Linked DNA regions of Homo sapiens. The protein of the gene in region 1 interacts with the protein of each later gene in a pairwise test. Each region holds a gene or a part of one and is shown in the gene's direction. Other genes may lie near its edges.

Region 1 (15,602 bases):
TTTGGTTCACATTTGGCATGTTTGGGCCTTTGCTCTGTGTATGGCAAGGAGAGAAAGATATGAAATTAAAATTACAGATAAATACAAGGAATAACTGAAACGAAAGATACTAATTTTCTTTCTCTTGTTGACTCAACCAGGTTTTCTTCTCCATTTCTGGCTGACAGAGACCAAACAGGTTGGCTTTATTCCACTGTCCTCTAGTCGTTGGAGACTGCTTTCCAATACTGTCCAAATGTCACCTCCATCTTAGAGACTCCTTCTGGGAAAGATGACTTTGTAGCCAACAATTAGGGAGAAGAGAATAGGAAGCAGGAGAAAGAGTTAAAGTGCTGCACAGAAGCTTCCATCCACAAGAGGAGCACGCCACCAAAGCAGCTGTAGAATACACAGTATGGCAAAGGGCTGGAGTCCAGCCTGTGCTGTCTGAGAAGGCATACCAAGCTCAGAACCAGGTCCCACCCAGAGAAGTAGTCCAGTCCCCCTTGTCATTGAGAAATAGCCAAACCCAGTGCGCTAGACAGAGACCACGTACACCACACTCTCTCGCAGAAGCTGTCCAGGGAAGAGATAGACCAACAGGATGATCTGCAGACCATCCTTGGCCAGAGCCCTAGACCAAGGAGAGCTGGGCAAGTCCATGATGTCCAATCAGAGCTGGGCCCAGGGTTCATGTCTTGAACATCAGGAAGCCCCCAAATGCAGTGCCTCGCTGGTTTCTGTTTGTTACCAATGCCTGGGTTAACTCCAACCACACTCTCTCACCCTTTCGCAGCTCAGCCATGGCAAAGGTGGCTGCTGTGCTTCCCGCCCAGGGTCCCTGATGGAGCCCTCCAAACACCAGGTGCCTGGTTCCTGGCCCTGGGCCAAATTCAATGCTCACTGCAAATGGGACACCAAACTCCGGCTTGGTAGTAGCCATGTTCAGGGAAGTTGCTGCTGTCAGTGTCGATGTAGCTAGTGTTGAACTTCCATGTCTGCAGGGCAGCTGTCCTTTCTGAGAAACTGGCATAGAAGGCCACAGGGGAGCCTGCCTGCCAGAGCTCAGTGTTCAAGGCATCTGGCACTGGCCCTTTGATGTGTGTGTCTGGCAAAGGCTCAGCTTCTTTCCTGTCCCTCTTCCGGGGAACTTCTGGGCCTTTCTGCTTCTGCTTCCTTTTCCTGCTGGGCACGGTTTCCAGCTTCCCCAGATTTAGGCTGACACTGCTGTCACCAGCTCTTGGAAGTTTCCAAGGAGGAGCAGCTGGTGCAGTCCAAGCTGCACTCGGAGGCGGACCATGGAGGCCCCGAGGCAGGTGAGAGAGGTGGCTGGGCAGCCTTGCAGCACCACCCGAGCCACTGAAGTCAGATCTCAGGAGCTGGAGCTCCTGAGCCAGCCCAGCCAGGGCTTCACACAGCTTCTTCTGGGCCCAAGTGGTCGCCAGCTCCAAGTGCTCTGCCGGCCATGGGGGCTCCAAGCCACGGCCCACTCGTGGCCTGCTCCAGGGCTGCCACCCGGGTAGCCAGCGAGTCCCAACCGAGCACCTGCTCCTTCAGGGCCAGGCAGATCTGCTCACGGGCAGGGGAAGCTGGCCGTGCGCCTCCTTTGACCTCTCCTCCATCACCTCCTCCCCAGAGAGGGAGGCCAGCAGGCCTCCATCAGGGCAGCCTAGGAGCTGTGCAGCTGGCGCCGCCATCCAGGCTCCCCTGGGTCTCCTTCAGGGTGCGTGGTGTCCCCGTGGCACTCCCGGACGGCCTCCAAGTGAAAGTAGAGCTTGTGGCAGCTGCCTCCTTGACATACTTGATGAGGTCAGTGTGGTCGCCCCACAGGTGCTGCAGGGTGAGGCTGAGCTCCAGGAGCTGCTACTCCACCTCCACCTTGTTTGCCTCCATAATTAAAGGCTTCATCAGGACCACACACAGCTCACAGAGCGCCCTGTGGTTCACCTCCATCTCTGGCTCCATTTTGCTGATCTGATGGAAGGTCTCGTCCAATTCGGAGCACAGCTCCTTCATCTCATCCACGTGCCGGGTCAGGGTAGCCCTCATATCCCTGAGGGGTGTTTTGCAATTCCTCCTCCCTGCAGGCTGAGTCCATGTGCAGCACCCAGAGGTTCCTCTGCAGTTGGCCAGCCTGGCCTGCAGGCTCTCCAGTTCAGGCCTTGCCCCAGCCCCTGCCGTCATCAACACGCAGCTGCCATTAGTCCTTGGGGCCTCCTGGGTTTGGCCTCTTCAATTTGGTGTCCACATCAGCCTGGACCTCAGAGAGGGAGTGTACAGGGAAGAGCACCGAGCATGCCGTCAGTCCTCCACATCCTTTCACAGCTGGCCCACTCTCTGAGCATTTTCCTGGATCTTGGCTTCAAATTTACCACCAAGCTCCTGGCAGTCAGCCCTGGCCACAGCACTATCCTGGACCATCGTGATGGCCTGGTGTTGGCCTCCACATCAAGAAACAGATTTGTTATGTCCGGGGAAAAGCCATGCAAGCTTTCCTTTAAGCTCTTTCAGATGGGGCCGAAATGCACTTGCAGGAAGGTGTCCATGTGGGGCAGCAGCACCTGCTCCAAGGATCTACCAGACAACTCCAGCTCTGTTTGATTTGCCACACTGCAGCTGTGAGGTTACTAGCCAGGGCTTTCCACGGGCCTGGTAGGCTGTCACCTGGGGGAATGTCATCCTGGAGATCTCCCAGGAGGGATTCCTGCTGCTCCTGTTGCACTTCAGCCTCATTGATCTCCACAGCCAGGTGGCGTGACTTTAACTTCCTGGCCGTCTGGAGCACCCTGTGGACATGGCTGCTGTGAGTGGATGTAGAATTTCTCTGTTTTGCAAGCAGCTGTGAAGGTAACCAGCTAGGACTTCTGGAAAAGCATTGTTTTCACAGCCCCTTAATCTCAGGCTGGCTCCCTCTTTGTGCCTTCCCTTGGGGACCCCTGCTGGGTGCCCTCATCTCTCAGTGAGCTACTGAGAGGCAGGTGCCTGCCCAGAGTGTATGTGAAGCTCCTGCAGTCTGATTTGGGCCTGCACTTGGCCTGCCATGGCCCCAGCCTGCTGCCCTGCCACAGCCAGGAGCCATTTCAACCGTTTTCAAATGTACAGGCATCTATTTAAAATGGCAGTATCTGTGCCTGCTCAGGCAATCCTGAACCTTCTTAACCTGAACTTTTTCCTCCTAAAGCAATGACCACTTTAAAACAGACAGTGTTAGCTTTTGATTGCTATTGTAAGAAATTACAAATTTAGTGGCTTAAAATAACACAAATTTGTTCTCTTACCATTCTAGAGATCTGAAGTTGGAATGGATCTCAATGGGCTAACATCACTGTGTTGTCAGGGCTGTTATTTCAGGAGACTCTCGGGGAGAACCTGTCTCCTTCTCCCCTTTTCCAGCTTCTCCAACTGCCCACATCCATGGCTCAGGGCCCATTTCCCCATCTTCAAAGGCAGTTCCATCAGATTAAGTCCTCACTGTGCCCCTCATCTGGTTCTCCCTCTTCCGTCTGCCTCTTCCTCTATAAAGATCCTGTGATTACATTGGAACCCCAGGGAAATCCAGAAAATCACCCCGTTTCCGGGGCAGATGATGAGCAACCTCAACTCCATCTGTAGCCTTCACTCCCTTTTCCATATAACCCAGTGGGGGGTTCCAGGGATTCACACCGGCATCCTCTGGGATTGGCGGGAGTGGGTGGGGGTGGCAGGTGATTATTCTTTGCAAAACACATGCCATATAATTTATGTATATATCATTTTTATACCACAAAGATGGGGGAAGAAGCAGAGCAATATTGGAGCAGAGATTTTGCATCCTGTTAAAATTAAGTTGGTTTTAATATGATCTAGGTTGTGGTAAATTAAGATATTAATTGGAATCCCCTGAAATGACTAACAAAATAACTTTTTTAAATAAAAAATGAAAAAGAGACAATAAAGGAAGTAAAATGATGCAGTAGAAAATATCTGTTTAACACAAAACAAAGCAATAGTGGTGGAAAAGATGAAGAAAATGACATAGTGCATATGGAAAACTAAGAAAAAGGTGGCAGACGTAAATTCTGTTCCACCTTAGCAGTAATTCCCTTACATGTCAAAGTGATAAACATTCAAAAGAAAAAGCAAAGATTCTCAGAATGCATTTAAAAAATGATCTAAAGATACAATGTAGATCCCAAGATACAAGTAGTTTAAAAGTAGACATATGGAAAAGATAAAACACATCCATAGTAAACAAAGACAACTGAAATTGCTATTAATAATATCAGGCAGAATCATCTTTAAGACAAACAATTTTATAAACATTCTAAGAACCAATCAACGAAAGGGAAACTCACAAGGAAAATTAGAAAATACTTTGAGATGAATGGAAACAAATACACAGCATACTATGATTTATAAGAAGCAGATAAAGCAGCACTTAAAGGAAAACTTACTGCTGTAAATGCCAGTATACTGAGAAAGAACAGGACAAAGAAAGGATTATGTCAAATTAATAACTTGATATTTCACTTTAAGAAACTCAAAGAGCAAAGCGACCTAAGCCCCAAATAACAAATGGAAGGAAATAAAAATTGGAGTGTAAATAAATGAAATAAAGAATAGAAAAACATTGGCAAACTCAATAAAACCAAAAGTTGGTTCTTTGAAAAGATCAACCAAATTGTCAAACCTTAACCTAGAATGACTAGGTAAATGGTGGAGGGATAAAACTCAAATGACTAATACCAGGAATGAAAGAAGAAACATCCCTACCAACTTTACAGAAACAAAAAGGATTATAAGGGAATACTATGTACAACCGTATGTCAATGAATTCAAGAACCTGGATGAAATGAACATCTTTCTTTTCCATTTATTTTCCAGTTATTATTGAGCCACTTTTGATTGTATCCTCCCTTCTCTACCAGAAAGGACAAAGGTTGATCACCAAAGACAATTTCAGACTCTTGTCAGGCCTAGGGACAGCAGCAGAGGCACCACAAGCTTCTCTGATGCCATAGATTGGCCTTCCCATGATCTGCCACTTCTCTAGACGTTTATTGTTTTCTGTTGAAGATGCTGGAGCTCTAAGCCAGCACTTTAAGGATTACTTGTTTTCTCCAGGTGTTTCCTGTGTATATACAAGAGACGATAGATAGATAGATAGATAGATAGATAGATAGATAGATAGATAGATAGATAGATAGATAGATAATAAACTCCTGTTTGTTTGTTTTTTTCATGAAAATCATTTTTCCTCCCCGCCGTACAAAGGCTTGTCAAAGGCACACTAATGAGCAGCTGATTGGGCTCCTCCAACCGATGAACTCTGTGTTTGGCTCTGTTTGGAAACACACTGAGGAGTCCAGCCTCTTTGGCTGCCACAGGATACATTTCCAGAAACACCTGTTAGGCGTCTGTGGATGAGGAAGGCATCAGGCCTTCCTACCTGAAGCCTTATTGACTCCTGCAAGTGCTAAAGAAACCCCTGGGGACAGGCTAGGCTGCCTGTTCCTACTGGATTTTAGGCCTGGAGACTTCTGGTGGGGGCAGCCCAGGCAGGGAAATCAGGAGCTGTGGACAGGGAGTGGAGGAGATCAGGAGGGGATGGCAAGACCCCCAGCCTGACCCCAGTCCCCAGTGCCCTCTAGCAGCAGAAATAGGAAAAGGAGGTTGAGGGCAGGCAATACTGCAACCTCCTGTGCTGAGCATACAGATAGGTCCAGCCTGGTGGCCCCGCACCTGCAGATTCAAGGCAGCCCTGCCCTGCACTAACCCTGCACCTCCCAGGCCCACTGCTCTCCCACTGTGACCCCATCCGGAGACTGGTCTATCTAAAGACCAGGACATTGACCAGCAGCCCAGTGCTCTGCTCCACGGCCTCTGTCAGGCAGGACGGAGCTGGAGCCCAGGCAGAGATAAGGACAGGGGAAGATGGCCCTTGTCAGCCAGGGATGTTCTGTCCTGCTGGGCATGCGGCCTCTCTCACAGAGAACCTACGTGATCTTGCTTCCCCCACTTTCTTATCTCATAGGCCCTACATATTTGCCAGAAACACCTGCATTCCTAACTCTTTGCCAGATGTCAGGGGCCAGCCGCCAGGGGAACTGCGTGGCAGAGCCCCTGTGCCAATGGCCAGAGAAATTCAGGAGTTCCCAGAAAACAGAGGGTGCTGGAAATCCAGGTGGGAGAGCTGCTCCTTGTGCCAAGATTTTCCTCAGAGGCTCCTTCTCCGGTGCCCTGAGCAGGGCCAAGCCTGGCGAATATTAGAATTTCTGCTGGGCTGAGAAAAAACAGCAAAAGGAGAAGCAGTCTGGGGGGTGACTTGGAGGTGGAAACTGGGTGCGGTCAGAAAAGTGAGTGGAGCCTGGAGGCCAATGAGCACCCCACCCTGGCAAGTCACAGCAGGACAGGGCAGGGGACCAGGCATAGAATTGGGCCAGTTGTAACCTGCACAACCTGGAAAAGGATTTGTATTTGTATTTCATGTACCCATTGGGTAAGGTGGCATTTATCTCCAGCTTCCTTGAGGTGAGCTCAGTTTAGGAAGTTTCTTTTCGACTGAACTGTGTCAGGAATCTCGCCAATGCCTGATGCTGCCCACCACATCTCTTTTGCTGCTGCTGTGGCTGGAACCTGCCTGGGAGGCACCGGCTGTGAAGGCTGGAGACCCAGGGAGGCTGCCCTGACACCTCTCCTTGTTCCCTGAGCCAGGGGGCCCATCTGAGCCCCTTCACCCCTGGGGAGCTGTTTTCTGTGCCTTGTATGAGGTTTTTGTCTTCACAGAAATGGCATTCTAGTAAGAGATAGAAATTTTAAATGGATAGATATGTAAATTATATGGTATGTGTGTTGGGCAGAAGAATTCCCTCTCCAATCCTCAGGATGGCAGATCCAGTCCCTGGAACCTCTGTGTTGGGGTACATGGAAAGGGCGGTGAAAGCTGTGGATGGAGCTGAGGTGGCTAATCAGCTGCCCTGGGAAAACCAGCCATGGAGGGGTAGTGTTCTCATGTAAACCAGGACTCAGCCTGGTGGAGCTGCCTTTGAAGATGAGGAAATGGGGTCCTGAGCCATGGACGTGGGCAGTTGAGCAGCTGGAAAAGGCAAGGAGGAGACAGGTTCTCCCCGAGAGCCTCCCAAAGGAACACAGCCCTGACAGCACAGTGATGATAGCTCCGTGAGACTATTCAGACTTCTGAGCTCCAGAATGGTAAAAGAATGAATGTATGTTGTTTTAAGGCACTAAATTTGCAGTAATTTGTTGCAACCACAATTAAAAGTTAATAAGGTTTGTTTGATTGTTTGTTTATAGGGATAGAGTCTCATTCTGTTGCCCAGGCTGCAAAGCAGTGGCGTGATCTCGGCTCACTGCAACCTCCGCCTCCTGGCTTCAAGTGATTCTCCTGACTCAATAAGCTGAGTAGATGGGATTACAGGCACTGGCCACCACACCCGGCTAATTCTCTTATTTTTAGTAGAGACAGGGTTTCAACATGTTGGCCAGGCTGGTCTCAAACTCAACCTCAGGTGATCCAGCCTCCCTGACCTCCCAAAATGCTGGGATTACAGGTGTAAGCCACTGTGCGCGGCTTACTAAGGTATGTTTTAAAGTGGTCATTGCTTTAGGGGAACAAGTTCAGGTGAAGAAGGTCCAGGATGGCCTGGGCAGGCAGAGGTCTCCCATTATGAAATAGAGGCCTTTACATTTAACAGTGGTTAAGATGAAAAATCACGTTACATGAATCATACCACAATTTTAAAAAAAGAAAGAAAGAAAGAAATACAAGGGTTCCAAATGCGAGGGGCAGGGAGAACCAGGCGTGGAAGGGTGTGCCACCTGGGAGCAGGAGTGGGAGTGAGCCGGGCAGATGCCTGAAGGGCAGTCCATGCTGAAGGGAGGGCAATGCAAAGTCCCAAGGCACGGGGACATCTGCAGGGCTCTGAAGACCAGCAAGGAGGCCGAGGGTGGAGGTCGGAACTGAGCGAGTGAGGGGGCATAATGGACAGCTGGCCAGACTGTGCAGGGCTCTCTAGGCATCTGTAGTGACTTTGGTTTTACTGAGAGAAAAAGGGCACTTTTGGAGAATTGGAGCAGAGGGGGGCGTGAGTGATGAGGTTCTGAAGATCACTCTGGCTGCGCTGTAGCCATTTGGGAGGTGGGGACAGGCACGGAGAACCAAGTAGGGCAGCACTGCAATCACCCTGGCCAGGAGGACGGTGGCCTAGAACCAGGGTCGAGTACTAGATGACAGTGTGGTCAAATCATAGATATTTTATTTCTAGTCCAAAGAAGAGATAAGAAAGAGGTCGAGCAAATAGGTGATTTTTTTTTTAAATTATTCACAGCCTTATAACATAACCTCTAAATCTTCAGTAAAGTTGGCTACATTCACAAGTAGCTGGTGTCACTTTGGTGGGGGCTTTGTAAGGAAGTGGGCAGGGTGTCTTTTAAGGAAGACTCAGGAGAAGTGCTGGTCTTCCAGTTGCAGAGGGGAATGGAGTTGCAAGAAGAAAACAGCGAGGTTCAGTGACACACAGTGCGAACACGAGCTCAGGGGGCAGGAGCTCCAGGTCTCAAGAGGGCAGGACGATAATGCAGTGTTTGCACAGAAACCAAGCAATAGAGGGAGCCAGCACCCACCAGAAATGAGGTAGGGCCGCTGTCACAGCTATGCCAGGACCTGCAGAAGCCTAAACCCTGAAAAAAGGTGGGGGCCCCCACCTACATATCAAGGAAAACATATGTATGCCATCACATGCTGGTCTCCAACAACTGCTAAAATTACATTAAATCCTTTCTAGAATTTCGTGGCTGGGACTTGAGTCTGGTCTTGGTCCTTCTACTGATGGTGAATCCAGTACTGAATTGGATCCAATTCTGGACGAGTTACCCTGTCCTAGAATCACTCACACGTGACAGTTGACAGGTGGCCCCACCCGGTTTGCATGGTGGACGGGTGTTCTGCTAGGCCGGCCTCTCCACACCCAGAGAGACTGAACTGGTTTCTGCTCCTCAGAGAGTTTGCACAGAGACTCTGAGGAAGCAGTCACCTCAGGCCTCTCCATCCTAGAGACGGCAGAAGGACAAACATCTCCTGCTGGCACAAGGTAGGGGGTGGGGGATGGCTGGTGTTCCAAACACCCGTGCAGAGGGAACGTGTGCATGTTTGGGAGTGAAGGAGGAAAGCAGGGGCTCGAGTGGTGAGAGAACCAGGGGCAGATAATGAAGTAAAAGTGGGGTTGGGGGAGATGCTGGGGGTGTGGCGGCGGGGACGCTGGATAAGGCAGGGAGGACGGGGTGGCTCTGCGGGTCCTCTGCCTCCACACCAAGCACTCAGGGATCCGTGCCTCCTTCCAGTCTGGAGTCCCAATCGCCCCTCTCTCCAATTTGGGGGACAGGGATTTCTCCTTGTTCTCCTGCCCTAACTCCTTCTTTCCGACTTCTCTTGTCCCATTCTCCCTCAGATCCTCCCTTCCGCTTATGCCAAGGCTTCCACAGCCTCGCTCTGCCGGGCCTTGGCATTCCTAGCCTGAGTGTTGAAACCATTGGCCGGGACCTCAAGGCAGCTGGGGCAGGGAGAGGACGGTTAGAAGCCCAGGGCACACTGCCACAAAAAGGCTGTGACTCATTTTCAGGGATTGAAAACTGCAGTCCAATTCATTTTAAAATTTTCGTCTCTCTTTGGACTTCAGGCTGAAAGTTCTTTATAGCAACGGGCTTCCAGGGACTATGTGAAATTATTGGTTTCACTTTCCTTATCACCCGCTTCTTACTTCAATTAAAATTCCATTTCAGCCGGGTGTGGTGGCTCACTCCTGTAATCCCAACACTTTGGGAGGCTGAGGGGGGAGGATTGTTTGAGCCCAGGAGTTCGAGATCAGCCTGGGCAACGTGATGAGACCCCATCTCCACACCAAAAATTTAAAAATTAGCTGGGTGTGGTGGCTCATGCCTGTAGTGCCAGCTATTCTGGAGGCTGAAGTGGAAGGACTGATTGAGCCTGGGAGTTCAAGGCTGCAGTGAGCCGTGCTCATGCCACTGCACTCCACCTGGATGACAGAGCAAGACCTGGTCTCAAAAAACAAAACAAACAAAAATCTACTTCATATGTAACCATTACTTCAGTTTTGAAACCATTGCCTGAAGCTGACATTTTGCAGTTGGAAAATGGCTATTCCTTCCCATCTTCAGGTTGGCTCAGGCCAAGCTGAGATTCAGGACCACAGAGGGCAACAAAGGTGGAAGGGCCCCTTTCCCCTTTCTGTATATTTTTCCCAGCCTGTCTGCAGCTCTTTCTTTTTCTTCAGTGTTAGGTTGGCATCCCAGATGTCAGGACCCAAGTATAGGCCTGGTGTGCTCCTTCCTGTGAGTCATCAGACTTGTAGAAAATATTGGCCCTGCTAAGGAGCTACTCAGTGGTCATATCACACATATGCACGCACACACACACAAGCACCCATGCACACACACACACACACACACAAACACACACATACACTCTGTTCTTGGCCCACCCCCGCTGGTGTCCCCACAGCAGCAGTATTGGCAGGGCGGTAGCAGTGAGTTCCTCTCTGTGTACTCTCAGGGCCTGGATGTGTACAGAACAGGCTCCACTCAGGACAGATTTGAGACCCCTTCTCCAGACCAAGAGGTGGAAGTGCACCCTCAAAATTGAGGTTCTTTAACCTTAGCAGACAGAGAACCACATAGGGGACATGTAAAAAATGTGCATTCCTCGGCTCCTTCAAACGCTTGACCCACTGTCCTCTGAGCAGACAACCCCTTATCCCCCAGCCCCAGAGATAGAGCCCTGCCGATAGTCCATGGTTACTTTCTTTGAAGTCTGTTCCATCTAGTTAAGAAAGGACAGTGGTAAAGACCCACTTACCTTACCAGGCATCATAAGGGCCCTAGCATCTGAGTCACAGGATGTCACCCTCTGGGTCTGACATGCACTTGAATTAACTGGCATACTGCCCGGCACACAGAGGGAACCTAGATGTGGAACGGATATGGGTGGTGTTACAGGCCGCATGTTTGCCTGCCTTCCAAATTCATATGCAGAAATCCTAATTCTCAAGGTGATGCTATTTAGGAAGTCATAACTCATGTGAGTGGAGCCATGTGGGATTAAGAAGTGATAGGAGAGCTTGCTGTCTGTCTCTGCTCTCCACTGTGTGAGGATACAACAGGAAGACAGCCATCTGGTGAGGAAGAGAGGGCCCTCGCCAGATACCGGACCTGCTGACACCTTGATCTTGGACTTCCCATCTTCCAGGAAGGTAAGAAATAAATGCTTGGTGTTTCAGCCACCTTGTCTATTCTGTTGTAGCAGCCTGAACTGGCTAAGGTAGCAGGGTCTGATGATCAAATGGGACAGCTGTAAAAGTGAGGTGGGAAGGGGGTCTACAGATACTAAGTTTTATGAGGAAAACTTGTGCTTTATTTGAAAATGACACAAAATTTTGTTCTAAGAAAAATTTTCAGAATTCAAAACTTAGAGCCCTAAGACTTTTCCCAATGATAGACTTGGCTTTCCTTGAGGTCTTGGCCCCAGTAGGACTGCTGGAGTCTATTACAAAACTCATCTGGAAGGACCTCTGCCGTTGCTGAGGCTTGAGGAAATGGTTTTAAGGTCACAGTGTAAACAAAACTGCTGGGAAGTTGGAACTGGGCGGAGCCCACTGCAGCTCAGCAAGGCTGCTATGGCCAGACTGCCAGATTTCTCCTCTCTGGTCAGGGCATGTTGGTAAACAAGGCAGCAGCCCCAATCAGGGGCTTATAGCAGACTTAAATGTCCCCGCCTGATGGCTCTGAAGAGGGCAGCAGACCTCCCAGCACAGCATTCGAGCTCTGCTAAGGGTCAGACTGCCTCCTCAAGTGGGTGCCTGACACCCACGTATACTGACTGGGAGACACCTCCCAGTAGGGGCCGACAGACACCTCATACAGGAGAGCTCTGGCTGGCATCTGGCAGGTGCCCCACTGGGTCAAAGCTTCCAGAGGAAGGAACAGGCAGCAATCTTAGCTGCTCTGCAGCCTCCGCTGGTGATACCCAGGTAAACAGGGTTGGGAGTGGACCACCGGCAAACTCCAGCAGACTGGCAGCAGAGGGGCCTGATGGTTAGAAGGAAAAGAAACAAACAGAAAGGATTAGCACGTCCCCTCAAAGACCCCATCTGAAGGTCACCAACATTAAAGACCAAAGGTGGATAAATCCACAAAGATAGGAAAAAACCAGTGCGCAAAGCCTGAAAATTCCAAAAACAAGAACGCCTCTCCTCCTCCAAATGATCACAACTCCTCGCCAGCAATGGAACAAAACTGGACAGAAAATGAGTTTCACGAACTAACAGAAGTAGCCTTCAGAAGGTGAATAATAACAAACAACTCCAAGCTAAAGGAGCATGTTCTAACAAATGCTAGGAAGATAAGAACCTTGAAAAAAGGTTAGTCGAATTGCTAATTAGAATAACCAATGTAGAGAGGAACATAAATGACCTGATGGAGCTAAAAAACAGCATGAGAACTTTGTGAAGAATACTCAAGTATCAATAGCCAAATCAATCAAGCGGAAGAAAGGATATCAGTGATTGAAGATCAACTTAATGAAATAAAGAGAGAAGACAAGATTAGAGAAAAAAGAATAAAAAGGAATGAACAAAGCCTCCAAGAAATGTGGTACTATGTGAAAAGACCAAATCTACATTTGATTGGTGTACCTGAAAGTGACAGTGAGAATAGAACCAAGTTGGAAAACACTCTTCAGGTTATTATCCAGGAAAACTTCCCCAACCTAGCAAGGCAGGCCAACATTCAAATTCAGGAAATACAGAGAACATCACAAAGATACTCCTCAAGAAGAGGAGTTCTGAAACTATTCCAAACAATAGAAAAAGAGGGAATCCTCCCTAACTCATTTTATGAGGCCAGCATCATCCTGATACCAAAACCTGGCAGAGACACAACAAAAAAATAAAATTTCAGGCCAATATCCCTAATGAACATTGATGCAAAAATCCTGGCAAACCGAACCCAGCATTACATCAAAAAGCTTATCCACCACGATCAAGTTGGCTTCATACCTGGGATGCAAGGCTGGTTCAACATACACAAGTCAATAAACGTAATCCATCACATAAACAGAACCGATGACAAAAACCACATGATTATCTCAATAGATGCAGAAAAGAACTTTGATAAAATTCAACACCACTTCATGCTAAAAACTCTCAATAAACTAGGTATTGATGGAACATATCCGAAAATAATGAGAGCTATTTATGACAAACCCACAGCCAATATCATACTGAATGGGCAAAAACTGGAAGCGTTCCCTTTGAAAATCAGCACAAGACAAGGATGCCCTCTCTCACCACTCCTATTCAACATAGTATTGGAACTTCTGGCCAGGGCAATCAGGCAAGAGAAAGCAATAAAGTACATTCAAACAAGAGAAGAGGAAGTCAAATTGTCTCTGTTTGCAGATGACATGATTGTATATTTAGAAAACTCCATCATCTCAGCCCAAAATCTCCTTAAGCTGACAAGCAACTTCAGCAAAGTCTCAGGATACAAAATCAATGTGCAAAAATCACAAGCATTCCTATGCAACAATAACAGACAAACAGACAGCCAAATCATGAGTGAAGTCCCATTCACAATTGCTACAAAGAGAATAAAATACCTAGGAATACAACTTACAAGGGATGTAAAGGACCTCTTCAAGGAGATCTACAAACCACTGCTCAAGGAAATAAGAGAGGACATAAACAAATGGAAAAACATTCCATGCTCATGGATAGGAAGCACTAATATCGTGAAAATGGCCATACTGCCCAAAGTAATTTATAGATTCAATGCTATCCCCATTAAGCTACCACTGACTTTCTTCACAGAACTGGAAAAAACTACTTTAAACTTCATATGGAACCAAAAAGGAGGCTGCATATCCAAGACAATCCTGGGCAAGAAGAGCAAAGCTGGAGGCACCGTGCTACCTGACTTCAAGCTATACTACAAGTCTACAGTAACCAAAATAGCATGGTGCTGGTACCAAATATATAGACCAATGGAACAGAATGGAGGCCTCAGAAATAACACCACACAGCTACAACCATCTGATCTTTGACAAACCTGACACACACAAGCAATGGGGAAAAGATCCCCTGTTTAATAAATGGTGTTGGGAAAACTGGCTAGCCATATGCAGAAAACTGAAACTGGACCCCTTCCTTACACCTTATACAAAAATCAACTCAAGATGGATCAAAGACTTAAACATAAGACATAGGACCATAAAAATCCTAGAAGAAAACCCGGGCAATACCATTCGGGATATAGGCATGGGCAAAGACTTCCTTTCTAAAACACCAAAAGCACTGGCAACAAAAGCCAAAATTGGCAAATGGGATCTAATTAAACTAAAGAGCTTCTGCACAGCAAAAGAAACTATCATCAGAGTGAACAGGCCACCTACAGAATGGGAGAAGATTTTTGCAATCTATCCATCTGACAAGGGGCTAATATCCAGAATCTACAAAGAACTTAAACAAATTTACTAGAAAAAAAACAACCCCATCAAAAAATGGGCAAAGTATATGAACAGACCCTTCTCCAAAGAAGATATTTATGCAGCCAACAGACATATGAAAAAATGCTCATCATCACTGGTCGTTAGAGAAATGCAAATCAAAACCACAATGAGATACCATCTCACGCCAGTTAGAATGACGTTCATTAAAAAGTCAGGAAATAACAGATGTTGGAGAGGTTGTGGAAAAATAGAAACACTTTTACACTGTTGGTGGGAGTGTAGATTAGTTCAAACATTGTGGAAGACAGTGTGGCAATTCCTTACGGATCTAGAACGAGAAATACCATTTGACTCAGTGATCCCATTACTGGGTATATACCCAAAGGATTATAAATCATGCTGCTATAAAGACACACGCACACGTATGTTTATTGTGGCACTATTCACAATAGCAAAACTTGTCCATCAATGATAGATTAAGAAAATGTGGCACGTATACACCATGGAACACTATGCAGCCATAAAAAGGGATGAGTTTATGCCCTTTGCAGGGACGTGGATAAAGCTGGAAACCAACATTCTCAGCAAGCTATCACAAGATCAGAAAACCAAATACCACATGTTCTCACTCATAGGTGAGAGTTGACCAATGAGAACACATGGACACAGGGAGGGGAACATCACACACCAGGGCCTGTCACGGGGTGGGGGGCTAGGAGAGGGGTAACATTAGGAGAAATACCTAATGTAGGTGATGGGTTGATGGGTGCAGCAAACTACCAGGGCACGTATATACCTATGTAACAAAACTACACGTTCTGCACATGTAACCCAAAACTTAAAGTATAATAAAAAAAAATTTTTTTTTGTAGAGATGGAGTCTTACTATGTTGCCCAGGCTGGTCTTGAACTCCCGGCCTCAAGTGATCCTCCTGCCTCATCCTCCCAAAGTGCTGGGATTATAGGCATGAGCCACTGTGAGGGCCTGGCCATTTCAGTTTCGTTAATTAGCATCTATGATAGTGCCTGATACATGTAGTAGACACTCTGTGTTTATTGAGTGACTCAATATGTTTTATTACAATTACACACACACACACACACA
Region 2 (15,368 bases), on another chromosome or scaffold:
GACATCATCTTTCTCTCTCTCTCTCTCTTTTTTTTTTTTTTTTTTTTGAGATGGGGTCTCACTCTGTCACCCAGGCTGGAGTGCAGTGGGGTGATCTCAGCACAATGCAACCTTCGCCTCCCAGTTTCAAGCAATTCTCATGCCTCAGCCTCCCAAGTACCTGGGACTGCAACCTCTACCTCCTAGGTTCAAGCAATTCTCCTGCCTCAGCTTCCAAGTAGCTGGGACTGCAGGCGTGAGCCACCACACCCGGCTAATTTTTGTATTTTTAGTAGAGGCAGGGTTTCACCATGTTGGCCAGGCTGGTATCAAACTTCTAACCTCAAGTGAGTCACCTGCCTTGGCCTCCCAAAGTGCTAGGATTACAGGCATGAGACACCACACCCAGCCTGGCTTCTCTCTATGAATATGTAGAGATATGCCTTTGGTTATGACTGTAATAATTTAATAATCTGAAATTTTAGAGTTGGAGTGAAAAAGGCATTTAATTTGTCTAGACAAAATCTGCTATAATGGTTCAGATGTGTAGAATTAATAATATATTCTCCTTTTCCAGAAAGTTACTGTGGCCCATGTCCTAAAAACTGGATATGTTACAAAAATAACTGCTACCAATTTTTTGATGAGAGTAAAAACTGGTATGAGAGCCAGGCTTCTTGTATGTCTCAAAATGCCAGCCTTCTGAAAGTATACAGCAAAGAGGACCAGGTTGAGTATTTATTTTAATTTCCCATCCTGTATTTAATCCTAACATCTGAGACAACTCACTGGAATATGAACCTAGAACATATAAGGGACACTGTGACTTGGTTATTCTAATACCAACCCTAAATCTTTCTTCATTGAAAATAACAAAGCACAGAAATTGTAGGTATCATGTATGTGTGCTCGGATGAGAATTATGCCAGTTAGTGGACAGAATGCATTTTTTTACAAGTGTGAGAACAGATGAAATGGTTATGGTCTTGCGTTTACTAAAATTATCAACACTGATTTTACTTATAGTTTATTTGTGGTTTCAAACAGGATTTACTTAAACTGGTGAAGTCATATCATTGGATGGGACTAGTACACATTCCAACAAATGGATCTTGGCAGTGGGAAGATGGCTCCATTCTCTCACCCAACCTGTAAGTCTCTGACCCAATGAGTCTCTTCTTTTTAATTTTTTTCCTAAGTTTTCCCTGTAATAATTCTAATCACTCATCTCACATAATCCCAGGACATTTGCACATTCTAATAGATTTAGTAAAAAGTGCTTAGGCCCTAAATTTGGGAGAAAGTTGTATTAGTTGTAGAGCAGCCAACACAAATACTAGTAAGTAATACAAATTGTTTACTATATGGTAAGTACTGTGGAAGGCAGGTCTAATATGTTCGTTTTACAGATAAAGAGACAGAAACAGAGAGGTTAAATATTACATACATTTCTTTTTGAATTTATTACCAGACATGTTGAGATATAATTAACATATAATAAATTGCACATATATAAAGTATACAATTTGATAAGTCTCGAGAACTATATGAGCCCATGAAAACATAAAGAACATCAAGATAGTTAACATATAAATTACCTGGAAAACATTCTCTAAGCATGCACCTTTGTGATTTCTCCTCTGTGTCCCTATGTCCTTACCTCTTTCTCTTTCCAGTCAATCAGTTTTCTGTCACTTTAGATTAGTTTGCAATTCATAGAATTTAATATAAATGAAGTCCTACAATATATATCATTTGCAATGTCTTATTTTCACTTAGAAAAGTTATCTTGAGATTCAGCCATCTCATTGCATGAGTAAAGAGTTAATTTCCTTTTATCTCTTCATTTATTGATGTATATTTAGGTAATTCCCAGTTATTGATCATTACAAATAATGCTACTTGCTAATAATATTTGTGTACAAGTATTTGTATCATATTAACGAAATCTTTCTTTCCCTTAACATAAACACCTAGAAACAAAATGGCTGAATCATATAAGTATATACTTAACTTTTTTTAAAGTGCCACACTGTTATCCAAAGTGGTGATGATATTTTACAAATTTTACTTTCTACCTAGCAGTATGTAAGAGAAAATCTGACAGAGAAGTTGCTTCACATCCTAGTCAACACTTGTTTTGATCAGCCTCTTAAATTTTATACTGGCTGGGTGCAGTGGTTTATGCCTATAATCCCAGCACTTTGGGAGGCCGAGGCAGGCAGATCACTTGAGGTCATGAGTTCAAGACCAACCTGGCCAATGCAGTGAAACCCTGTCTCTACTAAAAATACAAAAATTAGCTGGACGGGGTGGCAGGTGTCTGTAATCCCAGCTACTCGGGAGGCTGAGGCAGGGGAATGGCTTGAACCCGGGAGACGGAGGTTGCAGTGAGCCGAGATTGCGCCGCTGCACTCCAGCCTGAGTGACAGAGCAAGACCCTGTCTCATAAATAAATAAATAAATAAATAAGTAAATTTCAGACACACTAAATGATGTGTTTTGGTATATGAATGTAGTTTTAACTTGCATTTTACTAATGCAATGATGTTAAGTAGCATTTTTTTGTGTGTGCTTATTTGCCATTTAGGTAAAAATTTTCTTCTCACTGATTTCTGCTTTGATCTTTATTATTTACTGTCTTCTTATAGTAGGTTAAATTTGCTTTTTTAGTTTCTTATATTGAAAGCTGATATGTTGATTTGAAACCTTTTTTTCTAATAAAAGTTATACTATTAATATGTGAGATGATTTGGCAACATCCCGTCATATTTTGAGATACTACTTTTTGTTTCCATTCAGTTAAAAATAGTTTCTAAATTGTCTTTTGCATTCTTTGATTCATTGATTATTTACATGTGTCATTTAGTTTTCAACATTTGTGAATTTTTCAGACATTTTTATTATTGATTTCTAATTTAATTTCATTTTCATTAGCGAATTATTTTGTATAATTTAAAACTTAAATTTATTGACATCAGTGTTATGGACTAGACTATAGTGTGTTTTTAAAAATGTTTTAGGTGTATTTGATCAGAAATGTTTATTCTGCTGTTTTCTATGTATTCTATGTGATAACCTTTGAAATACAAAGTTTTGTAATATGGCTGGTAGAAACAGGCAAAATACTAGACCCTATGTTAGCACTAAGTATTGTTTACCCTAAATCTTTTCAGACAGTTCTTTCTCCATCCTGGAGTAGTTTTTTACATACATGCATTAGTAAGTACTCTGCTGAATATTCAAAGGTGACCTTCTGCATATCTTTACATTTCTTTATTTCTTCAAATCTCTTATCTCCATTTCTGTGTCCGGTGAACTACAGCTTGGTCTTTCTGGATTCTGAAGTGTCCCATGTCTGTAGTTTTTATAGCCTGCTCTTTTACCCACTTGATTGCACAGAGCAATTCAGCACACCCAGACTAAGTGACAACATCTTAATGTTCACTGATCTTATGAATATAGTTGTAATTCTCCAGATTAATGCTAGAGTATTCAAGAAAGGTCATTTCTACCATTTGAAAGATCTGACCTGTCACTACACTGTTCAGTAATTTCTTCATTCAGCTACAACGATCAGGAATGAAACCTAAGCATTTTGTCACTACTGCTTTTCCTTTTTTCAGTCTCATAATATCACAAATATTGCAGAAGTCCTCTAGATTGTAAATATTATAATTCTTTATTTCAAGGGGACTTTAGATATTTGAATTTCCAATTCTTCAATGTAATAAAAAGTCACAACAATATCAATGTTAAAATTAGGTTAATTAGGTGCTTCCTGTCTGTCAGACACAGATTTAAGCACTTAAATGTATCCTTTCATTAAATATACTTAACAATCCTGTATACAGGTGTTATTTTAACCTAATTCTAATGGTATACAACAGAATCTTAACATGTTAAATAACTCACTTAAGTTACAAAATGAATAATTGTTGCAATGAGGACTCAAATATATATATTTCTGGCTCTGGAGCCAGACTTACTATTAAATGACTAAAAAAGTGCTCTTTTCGCTGATTTTTAAATTTACTTTGCTACTTTAATGATTAATTGGCAATGATCAATGCACAACCTTTTACTCTCATGTGTTATTTTCAATTTTCCCCTTGTGTTTATTGTAGCAAGAACTCCCTACCTTCCTTCCTTATTATCTATTTGTAATTTGGAAGCCCCAGTATACCTTAGAATTGATCCAGGATGGCCTCATTTATGTATGGCTTGAGAGTTTTTTTAACAGAAAAAACATTGATTCTCTAAAAAATAAGAGTTTATATCATAGTTTCTCAATATTTTCCTATCTACAAGGACAAAATTTTTTTTCAGAAGCAAAACAACTAGCATACTAACTTTCTGTTTATGCATGTAGTAAATATTGGTTGATTACTGCACAATTTCCAGGAATTATGCAGAGATAACTACAGAGATGAGTAGAATAAAACTCATTTTAGAGCTTCAAACTCTAGTCAGAGATGTAGTTACAAACAAATAATCCAGTGTAGTTAGTTAGGTACTCTGGCAGAAGTGTAATGAAAGTAGTATGAAAAAACAGAGAAAGAAATCGAAGGAACACATGGACAAAGTGATATTAAAAAGAATGAGGCCGGGTGCAGTGGCTCACGCCTGTGATCCCAGCACTTTGGGAGGACCTGAGGTCAGGAGTTCAAGTCCAGCTTGGCCAACATGGTGAAAGCTCATCTTTACTAAAAATACAAAAATTAGCCAGATGTGGTGGCAAGTGCCTGTAACCCCAGCTACTCCTGAGGCTGAGGGGCAGCAGAATTGCTTGAACCCAGGAGGTGGAGGTTGCAGTGAGCCGAGATTGCGCCACTGCACTCCAGCCTGGCTGACAAGAGCAAAACACTGTCAAAAAAAAAAAAAAGAGAGAGAGGAAAGAAAGAAAAAAAGAACGAGACTCTAATGTAGACTGAACCTAGTAAGAGCAGTTATTAAAAAATCTCAGCTGGGGCCGGGTGCAGTGGCTCACACCTGTAATCCCAGCACTTTGGGAGGCCGAGGTGGGTGTATTGCTTTAGGTCAGGAGTTTATAACCAGCCTGGCAACGTAGTGAAACACCATCTCTACTAAAAATAAAAAAATTAGCCGGATGTGGTGGCACATGCCTGTAATCCCAGCTACTTACGAAACTGACACAGGAGAATCACTTGAACTTGGGAGGCAGAGTTTGCAGTGAGCCGAGATTGAACCAGTGCACTCCAGCCTTGGCAGCGGAGCAAGATTCTGTCTAAAAACAAACAAACAACAAAACAAAAACTCTTTAAGAATAGTTTTCTCCCTACAGTGGCCGATTGTTCAGTTACAGAACAGAGATCATTACATCGTCTTTTTAAATAGGGATAGCATCAGACCATAATCTTTTTATTTTTTTGTCAATTTTACATTGAAGTGACATCCTCACTCTTTCTTGAGCTTTCTATTTCCCATCTCTTATGAAAGAAAACAAAGTATCATTATTAATCATATAACTCCAAAAGATTAAAGATGCCAGAGTAAAACACATATATAGATATAGAAATCTCCACATGGAATGCCTAAACATATGCACACACACACACACACACACTTATACACACTTGTGAATGTGTGTATGTATGTATTAGATTTGAAATTTTATTTTCATTTCCTTACCAAGTAAAATTGCATATATCTGAAGAAAATGTTTTATTTTTCCACAAAACACAGTATCAAATTCTAAATTGAACACTGAATTTATTTCTCACTTAAATATTTGTTTTAAAATAAACATTCTAAAGTTTTCATTTAACTTGGGTATACATATGAAGAGATTTTAGACTTCAGAATTGGCTAGTTTCTGATGTATGATAAAAAGAGTGGCGCATTATTTATAATTTTTATTTTTATTATCTGAGTTGGCTATATTTTGTTTATGAATTAGGACCAGGCATGGTCCATAATCTCCTAAAATGGTATTAAGTTCCTGTATTTGAAGTTCAATAGGTATGATTCATTTTTATTTTCCCGCGTTAATAAAATCATGTATGTAATTTGTAATTGTCTCTCCTCTAGACTAACAATAATTGAAATGCAGAAGGGAGACTGTGCACTCTATGCCTCGAGCTTTAAAGGCTATATAGAAAACTGTTCAACTCCAAATACGTACATCTGCATGCAAAGGACTGTGTAAAGATGATCAACCATCTCAATAAAAGCCAGGAACAGAGAAGAGATTACACCAGCGGTAACACTGCCAACTGAGACTAAAGGAAACAAACAAAAACAGGACAAAATGACCAAAGACTGTCAGATTTCTTAGACTCCACAGGACCAAACCATAGAACAATTTCACTGCAAACATGCATGATTCTCCAAGACAAAAGAAGAGAGATCCTAAAGGCAATTCAGATATCCCCAAGGCTGCCTCTCCCACCACAAGCCCAGAGTGGATGGGCTGGGGGAGGGGTGCTGTTTTAATTTCTAAAGGTAGGACCAACACCCAGGGGATCAGTGAAGGAAGAGAAGGCCAGCAGATCACTGAGAGTGCAACCCCACCCTCCACAGGAAATTGCCTCATGGGCAGGGCCACAGCAGAGAGACACAGCATGGGCAGTGCCTTCCCTGCCTGTGGGGGTCATGCTGCCACTTTTAATGGGTCCTCCACCCAACGGGGTCAGGGAGGTGGTGCTGCCCCAGTGGGCCATGATTATCTTAAAGGCATTATTCTCCAGCCTTAAGTAAGATCTTAGGACGTTTCCTTTGCTATGATTTGTACTTGCTTGAGTCCCATGACTGTTTCTCTTCCTCTCTTTCTTCCTTTTGGAATAGTAATATCCATCCTATGTTTGTCCCACTATTGTATTTTGGAAGCACATAACTTGTTTGGTTTCACAGGTTCACAGTTAAGAAGGAATTTTGCCTCTGAATAAATAGAATCTTGAGTCTCATGCATATCTTGTTTGATGATATTTAGATAAGATTTTGGACTTTAGACTTTACAATTGATTCCGTAAAAAGCTAAGACTTGGGGTTATTAGAATGGAATTGTTTGAAATGCTTGTTCCCCGGTGTCATAAAGAAATAGGACTTGAACATAAATTTAATTTATTTAGTAAGGCCATTTTTTACTTCCTGCAGAAAGGGTACACTCACTAGCAGTTCTGCCATGAGAGTACACCGAACAAAGGAGACAGGGTCATTTATAACCTGACATGTCCACACTACTGCTGTGTCCGGTTTCCACTGGCTGGAACGGGACCTCACATTCTGTATTTGTCCCGATTGGCTAGCAACTTAGAACTTTTTAAAAGAGGCAAAGGTAGAGGAGAACAAAGGAAGGAGGAAGTAACTTGTGGAATGCTGAGAAAGATAAAAACACTTTTAAATAAGGAAGAGGAACAGGCTATGACCTAACGCTTGCTTGGACCAGTATAAGCATGCCAGGGCAAATATTTAGGAGCACAGGTCTTTGAATAAATTTTGCTTCTAAGAGAAGTTACTGTTTATTTCTAATTAGATGGGGAGGAAAGTCTTTGAAGAGGAACCTCTACTTTACTTTTTACAATATTCCCCCTTTTTTTATTTCATAATTCCTCCTCAGTCTTGTTTAATATGTTTTGACTTAATTCTTTGTCCTTCTAAGAGAGGTAATTTTTTTTCAATAGGGTGGAGGATAGTTAGGAGTTAACTCTGTAAGAGCAGCAGAGACAAGTTTTTGCATAAAACCTTGAAGGCAGGGCATAATATAACAGTCTACAAGAATAAGTACACCAATAGTAAGGGCAAACGAGGTGAGAATTGAATTGAAGTTAAATTTTTTTTTAATTTATGGTTACCTACCAGACCAACATGGATTTAAATTTTGCAGCTATTTGATTTTTGTGCTTTAAACTTATTTGGCACTTCTCACGGACCTTAATAACATTTACGTAAACCTGAGGATTAAAGGACTCAAGGAGTTTCCTTTGGCCTGCGGTGTTTTGTTTTTACCTTTTTAGATTGACGAAATGCCAGCGTGAAGCGGATAGCCAATTGGATTAGAGCACAAGTACTGCTCCAGTTATTTGGCCGAGTGTCCAGTAAAGGTCTTCCACAGTACCACTATACATTTGCTTGGGGATGGCTAAGCATGGACTGATGGGCAAGTTCTTGGAAAGGCTTGGGCTTCTTGTATCCTTTTATGCTTTCAAGGAACGCCAAATTTTCCTCCTGCCATGAGAGGCACAAAGTAAACTTGGCATTTAGAGGTGGAAGCTGGATTGCCCTCGGAGGCTGACCCGCAGGGTGTTGAATTTCAGGAAATAGCAGAGAGCGCTCAGTATGATGGATTATCCCAAGCAGTGGGATTTTGAAAAAGAACCACCATACACTCCATATCTGGATGACAAGGAGACCATCCAAGTGGAAAGGAGATAATCTGGGCCTCTGGCCTACCGTGTGTACAAGCGTAATAATCGCTTTTATTTAAAGTGTGAATGGATTATTTAATCCATTTCAGCCAGGAATTTGCATCTTGATATTTTGTCTTGATGGCTAAGGTCTGTCTTAGATATCTTATTTTTACAATAGACACCCTAGTTTTATTAGATGTAGGAGCAACTGGTGTGGGATCTAGAACTGAGGCTACTGAAGAAGGGGGAGATGGGGGAAAAATCCATATTTTAAAAATACCTAGGGGGTCTTTTCCATTTATGTCAATCCCCATACCACAGAAGCGACTAAGGGCAGGTCTAGAGTTAGTTAAGGTGGAGGTGGTGATAAAGAGAAGGACAGGGTTACACTGATAAGGCTGACAGTGAGAAGGGGTAGTCCTTTTAGTGAAATAGATGAGGGGTTTTAGATTTGCACAAACCTTTTTCGTGGAAGTCCAGCTTTGCTCCTGGGTAGTTTAAGGGATGTGGTCCCATTTACTACAAGGTTGCCAGCCTGTAGGAGCAGAAAATCAGCATCTTGGCTGCAGGTCATTACAACAATGACTGCTAGGGGTACCTGTGTCAGTTAGAGGGCTGGGACATAAATATTTGTGTGAAAAGGCTAGCTGTTGTTGATATTTTACATTTCCACAAGGTATGACAGAGCAAGAGTTAAAGGCAATGGTCTGAGGTGAGTCAGACTTAGTTACATTAATAACAACGGAGCTAGTAACAAAATACGGAAAGGAAAGGAAGCGATATAGAAGGTATATGAAAATTAAGCTTTCTTTAACTTTAACTTAGTAGGGCTTAATCCTAGTACAGTAACCCATGATTCTGAGAGGAAGATGTTTTCTTGACTCGAGTATGGTGGGACCATTTTTTTCTTGGCTGTGCGGACGGCAGTCTCAGTGGTTAATAGCATAAAATAGGGTTCTTCCCAGGCTGGCTTGAGTTTTTTTTTCTTTCTATCTTTTGATAAGGATGTGGTTTTCAGGCTGGTGCTGGTGTACTGGAAATTCTAGGGGTGCTACCTGTGCTAAAAGACTTTTAGCTCCAAGGGAAGGGAAAGTGGAAGATAGATTAAGTATATAATTTCTGCTGCATATCCTGGGGCTTGAGGCCTCATGGTTATGCCCCTTGCTCTATTCCTGCTCAGCGCTGCCCAGGAGACACTGTGGCCCTGCCCCCTCTTAATGTTTGGCCTTCTTATGGCCTTCACCACCCTGCACTCTGTGGCCTTGGGGATGAGGGTCCTTGTGACTTACCGGGTTGCCTTTAGGCCTTAAGAAAGCCAAACACCATTTTATATTTGACAATGTTTTTGTATGATTTTATACCAGATAAGTTAAATTTTACCATTATATTAATGTGCTATTGATGTTCAACTTAATTTTAATAAAATCTTGTAGACATTATTTATCCAATTTTAATGTCTAACTATAAGGTAAGACTTTTATAGATTCTTTAACTTTTTATAATTTTTGTTAAAGAGCAGGTTAGTGCTTTAAGAAAAATCTATAGTGATTTTATTGTAATATCCAGTTCACAGAAAAACTGGATGATACCCCTTTAACTTTAGCCAATATGTTAACACACAGAATTTCCTTTACAATTAACATTTTAAAACTTGCTTAAATCTTTAAAACAGAAAAAAAGTTTAGCCTTTAATGTAGGTAAAAATCTGTATTCTTATGCCTCTTTATAATCCTGTTATTAAAAGTATTTTTTTACATACCTTGTACATAAACTTTTTTTAATAATTTTACATTCAGGAGGCCTGTTTTTCAGTTATACAATATTTTTTGCATAAATTCCCTTTTATAGCTTTTCTTATGACTTTCACAGACAATCTTCAGCATGTCTTAACTTTCTGCCTTCCTTTTTCACTATTTTTCTAGTTTCACTCTCTGTATCTTCCTTTGATTTCTGTCTCTTCCAGTTTCTCTCTTACTTACTCTTTCCCTCTATTTCTCTCTCTCTCTCATTTGCGCTCTATTTTCCTCTCTCTCTCTCTCTCTCTCTCTCATCCTGTTTCCCTTTCTTTTCCCAAGTTCTCCTGCTCCTGCTGCGAGCCCTGCTGGGCCATGGCACGGGCCCCACCCCCACGCACACGCAGCTGTCTGTTTCTCCTGTGTTTTTTATTTTTCCTGATTTCCCTTTTTATATTTTTTCCTTTCTTTTTACACTTAGTTTCTCTGGCTGGGTGGGTGGGATTTGCCCGGCTGTAGTCTGGGCCCCAGGCAGTCACCGGCCCAGAGGATTGGCAGATGCCTGCCGCAAATTGCAAGAATTATGCCCTTTCACCTCCTCTGCTCTCCTCCCGGCACCAGTCCCCAAGCTCTTTGGGGAGAGGGACTTACCCCTTGGCGTGCCTGCCTGGCTGTTTGGCTCTATGCTTGCTGTTTTTGCTTTCTTTCCCTCTGACTTCCTCTCCTAGTTTTTTTCTTTTCTGCTGGTCTTTCTTTTTTCTCCACCTGTAGCAGGATTGATAAGGAATCAGGAACACCAAGGGGTTGAGGAGGATTTTTATTATTTAGGTGCACTGGCCCAGTTGGATTAACATCCAAATGACTGAGCCCTGAACAAAGAGTCAAGTTATCTTTTAAGTATTTTGTCTGTGGGGGAAGATTTGTGCAGGGGGAAGCATATTACAGAAGCAAGAAACAAAGACAGTTATTCAATTGAGACATACATTACATTGTTTCTTACTTTTCAAGGAAAAGCATGTTTTATGACTTGAGTTTGTCTGTCTAGTGACCTTGCAGCTGCACAGCTAGAGAAACAGGGTCTTCACAATGCCTGGGAAAGGGAGAGATAAGGCTCACTAGCCACGGAAAAACAGGCAGTTAATTTTTAAAGGACTCCAGTTCTTTCTCTTCCTCAGGGGGAATTGGGTTTTCTTACATACAACTGAGTTTTTGCTTACACATTCTTTAATTTCTTTTAATTCCTGTTCCATTCCCCCCTTTGGTGCTTTTTATAACAAATGTGTTAACAGAAAGCACCACTATTTGCCACGTCTTCGTGGAGCTGAGCTGCTGCTTCTACCAGCAGCGACTGATATCTGGTTAATGCCATCATCTGCATGGTAGTGTATCAGGCCACTATTGCCTCCATAGTTGACTGAATACTTCTAATAAACAGGGGTAAAAGGCAAGGGAGGATGAGGCAGATGCCAAGAATAACCAAGAACCCACCAATGAGGCTTTTGAATCCTCTAAAGGCTGAGAACCATCCTCCAAACAAGGAATCCGGGGACCACCCAGACCAAGTCTGAACTGGAATATGGGCCAATGTGTGCATTCTAGCGGTGATTTCCATGACAGCTCAACCATTATCATCGATTTCTAGGCAACAGTTGGTTAAATTAAATTTTCCACATACTCCTCCTCCTGAGGCTAAGAGGTAATCTAAAGCCAATCTATTTTGATATATAGCATTCCTCATTTCTGTTGTTGTATTTTTTTCCATGTGAGTTCCTTGGTGGAACTCTTTTAAAAATCTGGGGGCCACCATTTCAGGTATGGCTAGCCTCCCATTGGATAATATTTACCATCTCCTTTTAATGTAGTTTTTATTTTTCTGGGCAAAATAAGCCCTTTCATTTGGAGTGTAGCTTGGGATATCCAGGAGAGGAATCTCTGGGAGGAGAGGCATAGCTAAGGCTTCCTCTTTAAAAGGTGGAGTTGTCATTGCAGCCTGCTTTGCCTCTTTGTCTGTTTTCTTATTTTATTTTATTTTTTTAGCCTTTAGTATTCTTCCTTTTTGGTGCCCCTTGCAGTACATCACTGCCACCTTTTGGGGCCTATACAGCATTTAAGAGCTCTAGAATTTCTTCCTTATACTTTATTTCTTTACTTTCAGCAGTTAAAATTATTTTTTCTTTGTAAATAGTCTCATGAACATGCAAAGTGGCAGAAACATATCTGGAATATGTGTAAATATTTGTCTTTTGGTCTTTGGCTAGCCAGAGAGCTCTTGTCAGAGCTATTAGTTCTGCTTTCTAAGCAGAAGTTTTTGTAGGCAAAGACTGCACCTCTACTACTGAATCCAAAGTCACCACTGCATACCCAGCTTGGCGGACTCCGTTTAGTATGAAACTGCTTCCATTAGTAAAATATTCAATGTCCAGGTCCCTGAGGGATGTATCTGTCAAATCTCTCTGGCTTAAGAACACTTCATCTATCACATTTACACAGCAACGAAGGGGGTCTCCTGGCACTGACTCGATGAGGAGCAAGGTAGCCGGGTTTAGGGTATTCACCATCTCTAAAGTCAGTTTATTAGCTTCTTGTGCCAGTAGGGCAGTAGCAGCTAGTGCTTTAAAACAAGGAGGCCATCCAAGTGCCACAGAATCTAACTGCCTGGATAAGTGTGTCACTGGGCAATGCCATGACCTTATGGCTTGAGTTAGAATCTTTATGGCCTCCCTTTCACTTGTGGACATTCAAGAAGATAAGCTTAGTTAGTTAGATCTGGCAGTCCTAAAGCTGGGATCTGAGTCAAGGCTTCTTTGATTTTTTGAAAAGCCTTCTTCTGGTTGGCCTCCTAGAGGAGGAGTCCTTCTTTCCTCCTCTTTGTGGCTTTGTATAATGGCTTAGCCACAAGCAAGAAATTTGGGATCTAAATGCGGAAGAACTTTGCTGCCCTTAGGAACTCTGTTATTCGACGCCAGGTGGTTGGAGTAGGAAGTGCACAAACAGCCTGCTTTTGTTCACTACTAAGCCATCTTTCCTCTTGGCTTATGTAAAAGCTTAAGTACTGGACACTTTTCGAGCAGATCTGAGCTTTTTTCTGACCCTTTATATCCTGCCTTTCACAGCAGTCTTGGGTTTCTCCTGGGTGCAGTAGCCCTTGGCCAGTGGTTTTTTCATACCATGGCCTTGACCATTCTCCTTATTCTTTTGACATTTATCCTTCTAGTGTCCTTTTCTTTTGCACCATGTACATTAATCTCTCTCTAGCCTTGGCTGGCTTTCAAATTGCTGTCCAGACTAGCCTTTTCCACAACTGCATTCACACCCGCATCTATGCCTCCTTGCAAAGCCAGCCTCTCTTCCCATAAGGGCTGCTGCTTGTAAATAAGCCTTTATTAAGCCTCCAATCAGCTTTCTTCTTTGCCTCCTGGTCTCAGTTAATGTACACCTTGGTAGCCACTTTAATAAGCTGAGTAGCATTCACACCTACGGAGCTTCTAACTTCTGCAATTTATGCCTGATATCTCCTTGGGCCTGCCTTACAAATGCCGTATTTACTATTCACTGATTTTCAGCAGCCTCGGGGTTAAACAGAGTGTACAAGCAAAATGCCTATAAAACTGGCTGGTGCTTTTATCTGCACCATGGAGCACTTCTGAGATTTTTTTATATTGGTTGCCTTTTCCTTTTAACATCCTTTAGCCTTTGTAAAAGTGCTTCTCGGCACTTTTGTAGGTGCTGAAGCTGGACTGCATCGTCTGGGTCCTAGTGGGGGTCTGCTTGTCCTCTTAAGAGGCAGAAGCATAACTTGGGCATGACTTGACCTGAGACGGCCTGCCTACCTTTTTGAGCCTTTCGTTTTAACTTCCTGGAGCTCCGATTTCTCCTTCTCAGGTGAGAGTGGGAGCATGTATCTGTTTGAACTTACCTCCTTAGGGGCAATTAGCCTTGGTAAGGGGGGATAGATTGGAATATAGGTAGGAAGGATCTCTATTCCATCCTGTGATTCTTGCAAAACTGGTTTTCTCTTTCCTGAGACTCTTTTTTTTTTTTGGTCTGCATAGCTTCCAGGGCAGCTGACTTTCACTTTCACTTTTGGATCGGTGGTGCTAGAAGCCTCTGTGACTTTCCCTTTAACTCCGTAGCTGCCAGCACAGTTGGTTTATCTCGGCGTGAGCTGCGAGCATTCTACAATAAACTGCTAGGCAGGGCTGCGTACATTTAGCCATGAGTCAATATAAAGACTAGGTCTGAATGCCCTGGCTGTCCTCCGACCCTAGTCACCACCTTAAAACACACGGCCAATTTCTCTACAGTGCCTTCGGCCAGCCATCTGACACTAAAAGAGGGCTATTGTAATTCACAGTATGTCTTTAACTTTTGAACATCCAGTTTCATCCCACAATCACCTCTAAATCCTTTCTTTAAAATTTTTATCATGCACTCCAAAGGAGTTGGTTTTGACGCTTTCCCTCCCATTTCCTCCCTTGCGGCACACTCTCACTCTCACTCTCACTTTCACTCTCAGGTCCAGCAGACCCGGTCCTATTACAGGAGTTTCGGACACTGCTTAGCCAGGAAGGTGTCTTCCCCTGTCACAGCCTGCTACAGCTGCAAAGCTCGTCCTATCAGCTGTATGCAATGTCCTAGGTCTGATTTCCCCCCACACTCGCCTCAGAGCACACAGCCCGTGCTAAGGGATCTGTGCCTCCCCACGTCACTCCCTGCATTGGCCTCTCCCGAGACCATCGCTTTCACACACTTTCACACACCTTCCTTGCCCCAGGATTCCTCATTGGACGAAATGAGCCTCTCTCATGTCCCGGGTGAGTCTAGTTAGGCTCCCACTTTCACACACATACACCACTCCTACTGCAGGAGTCCTCATCGGATGGAATGAGCCTCTCTCATGACCTGGGTGAGCCTAGTTAGGCTCCCATATTCACACACATACACACACCACTCCCAGTTCCTGTCTCCAGATCCAGTGAACCACTTTCACTTTGTTAGTGGGGACATAAGCTTCATCCAAATTGGCAGGCCACTCCTGCTGCCCCCAGCCACTCTGGGTTGGATTAGTGGTCAGTCCCTGGGAGGTGATCAAGCTCCCCTTTGTCCCTATGGGACGGGCTTTCCTGCCTTGGGCCTATACTCCTTACCACAGTTCCTGAAGTGCTGGTATCGTCCTGCAGCCCCATCCTCGGTTCCATTGCGCTGCCAGGCAGGGTGCTGGGACGTGGGGAGAGCTGGTCTATATATCCGGGTGAAGCTCAGCTGTGGCACACCTTGGATGCCGGGT

What was found.
Region 2: the proteins of RAET1E (region 1) and KLRC4-KLRK1 interact in binary tests that used the Homo sapiens proteins (3 or more experiments, as listed by UniProt).

The regions. Positions count from the first base shown.
Region 1 is NC_000006.12:149,891,487-149,907,088, reverse strand, and holds the start of RAET1E (retinoic acid early transcript 1E isoform 1 precursor), read left to right. Parts: upstream 1-8,975; 5' UTR 8,976-9,068; intron 9,069-10,849; exon of another isoform or gene 10,850-10,956; intron 10,957-10,958; exon of another isoform or gene 10,959-11,056; 5' UTR 11,057-11,243; intron 11,244-15,602. UniProt on the Homo sapiens protein: Binds and activates the KLRK1/NKG2D receptor, mediating natural killer cell cytotoxicity.
Region 2 is NC_000012.12:10,363,894-10,379,261, reverse strand, and holds the end of KLRC4-KLRK1 (NKG2-D type II integral membrane protein), read left to right. Parts: intron 1-556; coding exon 557-708; intron 709-1,026; coding exon 1,027-1,130; intron 1,131-5,125; exon of another isoform or gene 5,126-5,227; intron 5,228-6,030; coding exon 6,031-6,148; 3' UTR 6,149-6,909; downstream 6,910-15,368. Other genes in the region: KLRK1 (NKG2-D type II integral membrane protein), read left to right, coding at 557-708, 1,027-1,130, 6,031-6,148.